Linked DNA regions of Homo sapiens: region 1 is linked to region 2. Evidence: fine-mapped expression QTL. A gene starts in region 2. The other region holds a variant in brackets. All regions are shown on one strand. Distances are from middle to middle.

Region 1 (4,528 bases), 28 kb before region 2:
GAGATGGGTGGCACCTGATGAAGGCTTGGAATAAGCAACTATTTGCCAGGTAGGAAAGGGGCTGGAGTAAGGGCATTCCAGGCCAAGGAACAGCAGGTACAAAAACACAGCTGCAAAAGCACCATGAGGGCATGTGTGTTGTGGGGGAGGCTGTGAAAATCACTAGCAGGGCTGATGTCAAGTGGGGTTCAGCTGGGGAGAGGGCCGATCAGGCGGAGTCAGCATGTGAAGAGTCCATGCTAAAGCATCTGGCGTGAATCTTATAGGATAATAGTCAGTGGAAGTTTTGGAGCATCGAGACACATGCTCAGATTTTATTTTGGGAAGATAATGCTGGTACAGTGTGGAGGATGAGCTCATTTGAGGGGTGTAAGCAGTGGCAGGGATACAAATGAGGAGGTGGCTGCTGTAGTCTGATGAGTGCTAAGTAGGTCTTTTTAGGACCCTGCAGTGTGAAGAGAGGTGAGGAACCAGACCAGGGAGTTGTGAGAAAGGCAGGGGTGACAGTTCTGGCTGACCTGTTGCATCTGGGGGGTGCAAGAAATCAAGGATGCATGAATGAACAGATGGCTGTGGCCATGCCATTAACTAAGTTAGGAAATTTCAGAAAATAGGTTTGGTGGTAGGATGAGGAAAGATAATGAAATCAGTTTGGGACGGTTTGAGTCAATATGTCTGGGAGCATTTAGGCAGTTGACTAGAGAGAGGTCTAGTCCTTAGAAAATAGTTTAAGGCTGAAGATACTGACCAAGAAGCTGACAGCACAATAGTGGGGACACTCTAGAAATGGATGAGGTCACACTGGTGACCTAAAGGACAGAACTCTTGGGAATCATAACGCTTCAAGACACTCAATCTTCAAAATTAGATTTGACAGAGAGTTATCTGAGGGATTATTGAGGTTCTAAACCATGTGAATAGTGTTTTCTTTTCTGTGTCCATGCCTGATGAATTTTTAGTTCAAGTTTTTTTATTTGTTTCTGCTGACTCTAGAAATGCAGTGGTATAGTCAATGGGAGGCTTCGGAATCAGATAGAGCTGGTTGCTGTTCCAGCTCCCTGATTTAGGATGAAGCAGTTGAACTTCTCTGGCCCTGGTTTCCCACACTACAGAAGAGGTAGAATGGCATCTAACACTAGGAGAGTTGTTAAGATTTATAATCTGCTACTTGTCTGGTTGGTAACATAAAAGACTGTCACCTCAGTCCTATAGAATATTAAATATGCTAAACCAAAAGGCTTACCTTGGTAAGGATGCATCATCTAAAAAACTTGAAATCATTAGGTCCTGACTAGTGTATTTTAAACTGAAAATGTCTGTTGATTAATGTTTGAGCTGACTCTGGCATTTCAATTATTAAAAAGTAGACTAGAAAGTTCTAAGTGACAGGGTGTATTCATTTTTCTTCACAGTCATCTAATTTAGAGACAGTGGAACAAATCCAAGTAACAACTTTATTGTAGTATACAGCACAATTTTTACATACATATTAGTGGTTTTGACAGTGTTACTTTTGAGTAGACCTTAAATGAATCCACAAAGTTAATATATTAAAAATAAAATATACACAGTAAAACAACAGGCATCCAGATGTTCAGAATCATGCAGATAGGAGTGGTTTGGTTGGTGTTATCACTGGGTACCTTGCCTATTTAACTCGCCAGCAAATACCACTTCTTCTGTTTCTCATTCCCATATAATTCATCAAAATCAGAGAGTTCTAAACATATACAAAATAAACCTCTTTTAAAGCCACATCAGTAAAAAATTTCAATTAATAAGGTTATCATCAAACCAAGAATTCCACTGATCATTTGATCAGCCCATTACTAGGAAACAGGCAATATCAGCACCCGATCTAAAGGCAAGCCTATTTCATTTATTAAAACACCAACAAGAGAGATTAATCAACAAAGCAACTATTAACAACATGTTAATCTTAATATAAGACACTGAGAGAAAAGTAAAAATAATACATAAATATCACTCCACTGAGCCAGGATATAACTCATGGACTACAGATACATGAGTTTCTACCTGTCAAACAATGCTTTAAATATTTTTTCTAGGAAAAAAAAAAAAAAACACAATATATGAGAAGATGCAAAGGAAAGGCAGAAATGTGAATTTATGCATCTAGTTCCACAATTTAAAATAAATATCAAACTGACAATATAAAGCTAAGTGACAATGACTTAACCATTGGGCACCAAACAGGCAATACAACTGCTCACTGTAATACATAATGCTCTTCAGGAGTTTCCAGCAGATGGCCATCACAACAATACTGTCATAATACAGAAAAAACATTTATCCACTGTGGAAAGAGACCCTGAAGAGAATGTGGCAAAGGCATAGAGAAAAAGTTGGATCTTTTGAAAAAGTTAATGATATCAAAATACTTTTCCATCACTGGTAAACCAAGCTAGGTCAAGTATATGTCCCAAAGCAGCACTGAATTCAGAGTAAGAGGTTGGCAGAAAAGTTTGGAAAACTGCAGTTTTTAAAAATTGGCAATTTCTCCATGCTTAATAAAACTATCAGAAGAGGTATAATGTTTGTTCGTTTGTGGAATGTTGACTGCTTGCTGCAAAAATTTACAACATGAATGAGGACCTGCAGAGATGCATATCAATGAAATATTTTTT[T/A]AAAAATTTACAAAAAACTAAAGTTTCTATTTAAAAAAGAACCATGTTATGCCAAGATGAAACATGGTAAAAAGTAGTGTAAGTTCTGTCCATGATTCTTTACCTAGTGAATGGGAAAGTAATAGAAACAATTTTCTTCTTAAAAAGGAAGGTTTGTTATTGCACTGACTTTTACAACCTGACATAGTAATTTAGAAAAATCATGTAGTAAAATCTGTAAAATTAAAATATAAAAGTCTGGTTTGTAAACATCAGTTGGCCAAGTCTATTCAGAGTCCTTCATGATAGTGGAATGGAATGAATAATTAATTCACTACCTTATTTATTTGCTGTGAGGCAGAAAATTCCAGAACACAGCCTTTATACTTTCACAGTAATTATATTCAAAAGATATAAAGTCAGTGCAGTTATTTTTTTTCTTTCCCTGTGCAATGTTTAGCTCTCACCCCACTCCCAAGTGCCATAATTGAAATAATACTGGTTTGGAGAATTAGTACAGATTGGTCATAAATGCCGCATAAAGTCCGTAGGACTTCGGTAAAGGTATTTCCAAATGGCGTAGTAATGCACTGCAGCTGCCGTGGCCACAAACAGGTGCCAGATGGCGTGGGCAAATGGAATGATGCCATCACTCTTGAAGAACACAACTCCCAAGCAATAAATTAAGCCCCCACAGGCAAGTTCCTGAAGTCCATCGGTGTTGTTCTGTCAACAGAGAAAAAAAAATAAAAAGGGTTTGATGTTACTCTGCATGGCAAGCTACAGATAACTGTAATTCTCTCTAAGGCTCTTGATTTTCTAGACAATGAAGAAGCTGTGTGAACACAATCCTGATCTGTAAACATGAACCAAACATAAAAAAAGTCTCTTATACATCGACCTGGATTGCCCTTTGGACTGACACTCTTGAGTTGAGCAAGCAATCACATTACAGGTCCCAAATGAAAAAGCAGAACATTCTGCTCATTTACAGCATATTTAAGCAAACTGCAATCATAGCCAGACATGGGAGTTCATTTTAATAAAGTGCAATCCTCTGTTCTCATCTTCCCCTTTAAATGCTTCCTTCCCTACTAAGGCAGGCCCAAGCCACTCTATTTATAATTTACATCTCAGGCAGGGTATTTACTTCCCTTTGTCCTTCTCAAACACTGTTCTACACTGATTGCTGCTTTGAGACTTCCCCTGCTTATGTGAGCTTATAGATTCCTTAAGGCTGACACAGGAAAACCGTAACTAGAAGTGACCTCTGAAATCACAGATCACATAGTACAAGATATTTCCTAGCCTTCTAGATGTCTCCAGGCCTTTTTGTATTCGAGCCTGGCCATTGCTTAGCTTAGCAATAAGTTAATATTCTTGTGTGTCTTAGGGCAGAAGGGAGAATTTTTTAGGCTGTTCTTGGTTTTCAAAGACCAAGGCCCATCTACAAGATTAAAATGGCTTGTATGAATGAGGAGAGAGAATAGAGGCAATGCTTAGAAGCTGATGAAGAAACAAGTTAGTCCCCTGGATTTCTGAGGACTAGGAATAGAAAGGAGACAGGTTCTGCAGAGTGAATGGAAACCTAAGGCAGATCACGGCAGGGCCTTGGAAGGGGATAGGTGTGTGGGTGTCCTAGAGGCCTGGGCACTGGGCAGCAGCCTTGTGTGCCCCGCAAGAGTAAAGGGAAGCTCTAACTCAGGCACCTGATTAGAATGGGCCCCAAGGCCCTCGGCTAAAAGCAAGGCAACAATAGACCATCATGAGCTAAGGACCAGGTGTGAGGATCTAGGGCCAGCTGTGAGCTTCAGTCCTTTTTCAAAGTTCACAGAAGCCCCCATGTTTTGTGTGGGATCAAAAGATGGGGAAGGAGCCAATCCAAATGGACTGACATTGGA
Region 2 (4,000 bases):
AGTCCCAATAAATCTATCAGGAGGGAGGAAGCATGTCTCCCTTCAAAGACAGTGTGTCTCTCCCTCCAGTTCCTTTGCAATTTACCTACCTGGGAATGCTCAGAAAGATATATCATGAACACAGCATTAAAAGATGCAGAATAGTACTACTCTCAGCATTTTAATGTGTGAACCACAAAAATCAGGACATTCTCATTACATTACTTTTTGTTTATAGGCTTTATTTCCAAGTTAAAATTGATGCTTAGAACTATGTTTCCAACCTAGCTTATGATAGAAAACCAAGAAATTATGAGATCACACAAATCTTCAAAGAAAATCAGGGTAGATCTAGATGTCATCAAGAAAGAAACTGTTAAATATCCATTGAGAAACACACAAGCCCCCAAGAAAATTACAGTCTATGCCACACCAAAAGAAAATACCTGTATTTTTAGTTTTTAAGTGAATAATAGCGCAAAAATCACATTACAACTGTGCTAATAAGGAATGGAGAGATCAGTGTCCAGCAAAAATAATTAAAAAGTCAGTTCAATAAGCTGAGAGGGTAGCATCCTAAATGAAGTTGTTGTTGTTGTTGTTTTAACAGTTTTAACGTTTGTGCAACAAATAATTGAACAGGGTTTGTTTGTTTTTTTTCTTTTTAGAGGATCCAAAGGTATAGGTAAGAATGACAAACTCTTAATCAAACAAGGAAGGGGCAATTTCACAGAATATTGCCACTGTTCTCTGAAAACAGGAAGAGCACAGACGTGTAGAGAAGTAAAACCAAATCAAACCGCATGCACAGGGCTTCACTGATCATGACTGGAGTGCATGTTACATTCTCTCTAAAAGCCCCTCCGGTCTTCATTTCTGACATCAGGTTCTAAAGTCAGAACACTACGGTTCCATTTTGCCCTTAGACACACCGGTATGAAGTTCCACTGGGGGAACAGTGCCAAGCATTCAACACCCTGACTGATAAGCAATATATTCAGAAGTCAATCCAAGTCTTCAAGCTGATCCCCTTCCTGGTGGCCCAGACCATGGCAACTCTTCTGTGCATTTGTTGCCTCCTTTACCCTTTGGGACTGGGGGAGGAATGAGATGGGTGAGAGGGCAGTGAGGGCATGGAGATTGGAAAGAAAAAAAAAATGTGTACTTTAAAATTCTGAAATAAAAGGTAGTGTCTAAAAACTCAACAACCTTCTTGGAAGATTTCATGCATTTCTTAAAATTTCCCCTGTCACTGCACCCCCAGCAAACATGCTGGTGGTGAAGGTCCGGGAATTCACACAAAGGGATGCAGTTACCATATGCCCTGGAGAGGTGAACTTTCACCCACTTAAACAGAAAAGAAAAGCCCGGAGTTCCTCTCAGAGTCATGGGCTAACCTCCATCCATTGTTAGACGGTGGAGCCCCAGAGGGGAGTAAGGCCACGGCGCCCCCCAGCCCGGCATTTCCACCAGCTCTACAGTGAATGAGCAGTCGGCCAGCCTTCCGGTGGCGCCTCCACGGTTCCTCCTCCTCGTTTCCTAACACCGGCGCCTCCACAGCAGGTCTCGCCACCCGAAAGCTAACATGCCCCTTCGCAGAGCCCAAAAATAGCACCGCCCTGGGACGTTCAGCTGGAGAACCAGCAAGGCCCCTACACGGCCAGGCAGGGCTAAGCTGGCGGAGCGTGCCTCAGTTTCCCTGTTGCTAGGGCCGTTCACAAAGCACCCAAAATGCCTAGCACCCCGCTTTACGACAAATCTCTCCGCAGGGCGCCACCCCGTTCCGCGCGCCCCGGGAGACCCCCACCCTGGAGGTAAAGGGATGGAGGCCAAAGCCAGGTCGGAGGACTCGGGGGCGGTGCCCGGGGCTGGGGTTCGGGTTCCCAGAGAGAGCCAGAGCCCAGCCTGTATGGGGGTCGGGAGGGTGAGCCCCAGGAGCAAAGGGATCCCCGGGAAGGAGGACAGGCTTGGAGTCCCGGGGCCGGGAATCCATCTGAGGTCCGCAGATCGCGAGGGGAGACCCGGGTGAGGCAGGAGCTCCCATCCTTGGAGGAAGGGGATCGCCCAGGGACAGCAGGGTGGGGAATCCCCAGGGAACTGATCCCTGGCCAAGGTGCGGGATCCACCCAGGATGAATCCAGGTGAGGAGCCGGGAGCCGTGCGCTTAACGGCGGGATTTGGGAACCCGCTTCTGACACGGGCAGCGGGACCGGGACGCCATCCCTCTCACCGCTGGAATCGATTCTTGAACCGCATTGATCCTCTGCTCCTCCTCGGGGGCCAGGAGCTCCGTCTCGTCAGCACCGGCGGCCGGGCGCGCGGCCCTCATGGGCTTGGGCTGCTCCGGAGGCCGCCTGCGTGTCCAGCGGAACCCTTCGGCCGGGTAGGGTCGGAGTGGGCCAGGCCGGGGGTCGGGACAGGGCTGGGGCCAGACCGGGCGGCTGGGGGCGGGAGGGAGGCCGCTTCAACGGCCCCAACACCTCCCGCCTCCCGCCTCCCGCCTCCCCGGCTCCTCCGCCCCGGGGCTCCTGCGCCCCGCCCCGGAGCCCGGCTCCGCCCCCGCCGGCTCTGTTCGCCTGCGTGCACCCGCGGTCGCCGGCGCGTCAGCGCGCCGGTCAGCCAATCGGCACCCCGAGCGGCGCGGCGGCTACGCTGCCATTCATTCCCGCCGGGCTCGGGCAGCGAGGCGGGGCCTCGCTGGGGAGGGGCGGGGCGAGGGGAAGGGGAGGAGCGCGGGAACGCGGCGCCCTTCTGTAAGAGACAAGTTGGAGAAGAGATCGAGGGAGGGAGAGAAGTGGTGAAGGAGGAGATGGACCAGGAAATCTTAAAAGCATTGTGAAGAAAATAGCAGCAAACAAGCAGCCCTACCTCATTCATTTTTTCTTCATCATTAATTTCTCCATCCCTCCTTTCATTTATTCCTTCATCATTTTGAGGGCCAGCTCCCGCGAGGCTATTGTGAGAGGATCCAGGGCAGAATGAAAAACCTGTCCTTGTCTGACCCTTGAGGGAGTTGAGATCTCTGAGCGTCTTCTAACTCTGAGATTCAGTGAGATCCACAAAAGGAGGAATCCTCTGCAAGGATCCTTTTATGTTATCCTCCAGTTTATTTTTTATTTTATTTTATTTTTATCCAGGCAGCTTTCAAATAAACGAGTTGACTTGAATCAGGGTCCTGTCGCTAAACCTAAACTCAGAGGGCTTCCTGGAAGAGAAGTTCAAATAAAAATGAATGAATGGGCCAGGTGCTGTGGTTCATGCCTGTAATCCCAGCACTTTGGGAAGCCAAGGTGGGCGGATCACCTGAGGTCAGGAGTTCGAGACCAGCCTGGCCAACTTGGTGAAACCTTGTCTCTACTAAAAATACAAAAATTAGCCGGGAGTGGTGGCGGGCTCCTGTAATCCCAGCTACTCGGGGGGCTGAGATGGGAGAATCACTTGAACTTGGGAGATAGAGGTTGCAGTGAGCCGAGATTGCACCACTGCATTCCAGCCTGGGTGACAGAGTGAGACTCTGTCTCTCTCTCTCTCTCTCACACACACACACATACACACAGAATGAATGAATGGGTGATTTGTCGAGCCTTTCCAGGATCACTGATGGAAGTTATATGTGTTCCCTTCCAGGTATCGTGTCCATACCCAGCCCCCAGCCTGCAGGCTAGAGACTCTGAAGTGGCATGAGGCCAGCCTGCTAGGAGTGCTCATTCGACCTACAGTAAAGCATTGGAAAGCCAGGGAATTCTGTCACCCATAATTCTAGTTCCCTTTCCTTGAACCTTCCAGAGAGGTGCTTTCCATGCTTCAATCTTCCCAAGAGCTCCTCCAGATGGGCATTATCCAACTTATTTTACAGATAAGGCTGAGGCTTATAGTGGTCAATAAACTTGCCAAAGGCAAAAGTAAGGCTCCTACCTACCTTTCGCTAACTTTAAAGACCCACCTCCTTTCAGTACGTCAGACTATCTCTCCCTGTTTTAAAGCAATACACTTCTCTAAAACAAAACAAACAAAACAAAAC

Alleles and levels. Alleles are on the strand shown, and positions count from the first base shown. SD is a standard deviation of normalised expression in the study named.
For the expression in cerebral cortex of the gene that starts at base 2,375 in region 2, T is the high allele of the variant in region 1 and A is the other (small effect, 0.26 SD a copy in GTEx).

What was found. PIP is the estimated chance that this variant, and not a neighbour inherited with it, causes the effect. A credible set is the group of variants that fine-mapping cannot tell apart.
Region 1: its variant is the best candidate, but not a certain one, in a credible set for the expression of MMD in cerebral cortex (GTEx, PIP 0.63).

What each region holds. Positions count from the first base shown.
Region 1 is chr17:55,391,182-55,395,709 of GRCh38, forward strand. MMD (monocyte to macrophage differentiation associated) reads right to left here. Exons shown (of 7, transcript NM_012329.3): 7 at 1,441-3,353. The coding sequence ends at 3,153. Among named protein-coding and RNA genes, the nearest start is that of MMD, 28 kb to the right of the region's middle. The variant T/A (reference allele first, on the strand shown) is at 2,649.
Region 2 is chr17:55,419,461-55,423,460 of GRCh38, forward strand. MMD (monocyte to macrophage differentiation associated) reads right to left here and starts at 2,375. Exons shown (of 7, transcript NM_012329.3): 1 at 2,210-2,375. The coding sequence starts at 2,235. RefSeq lists a silencer at 2,316-2,775.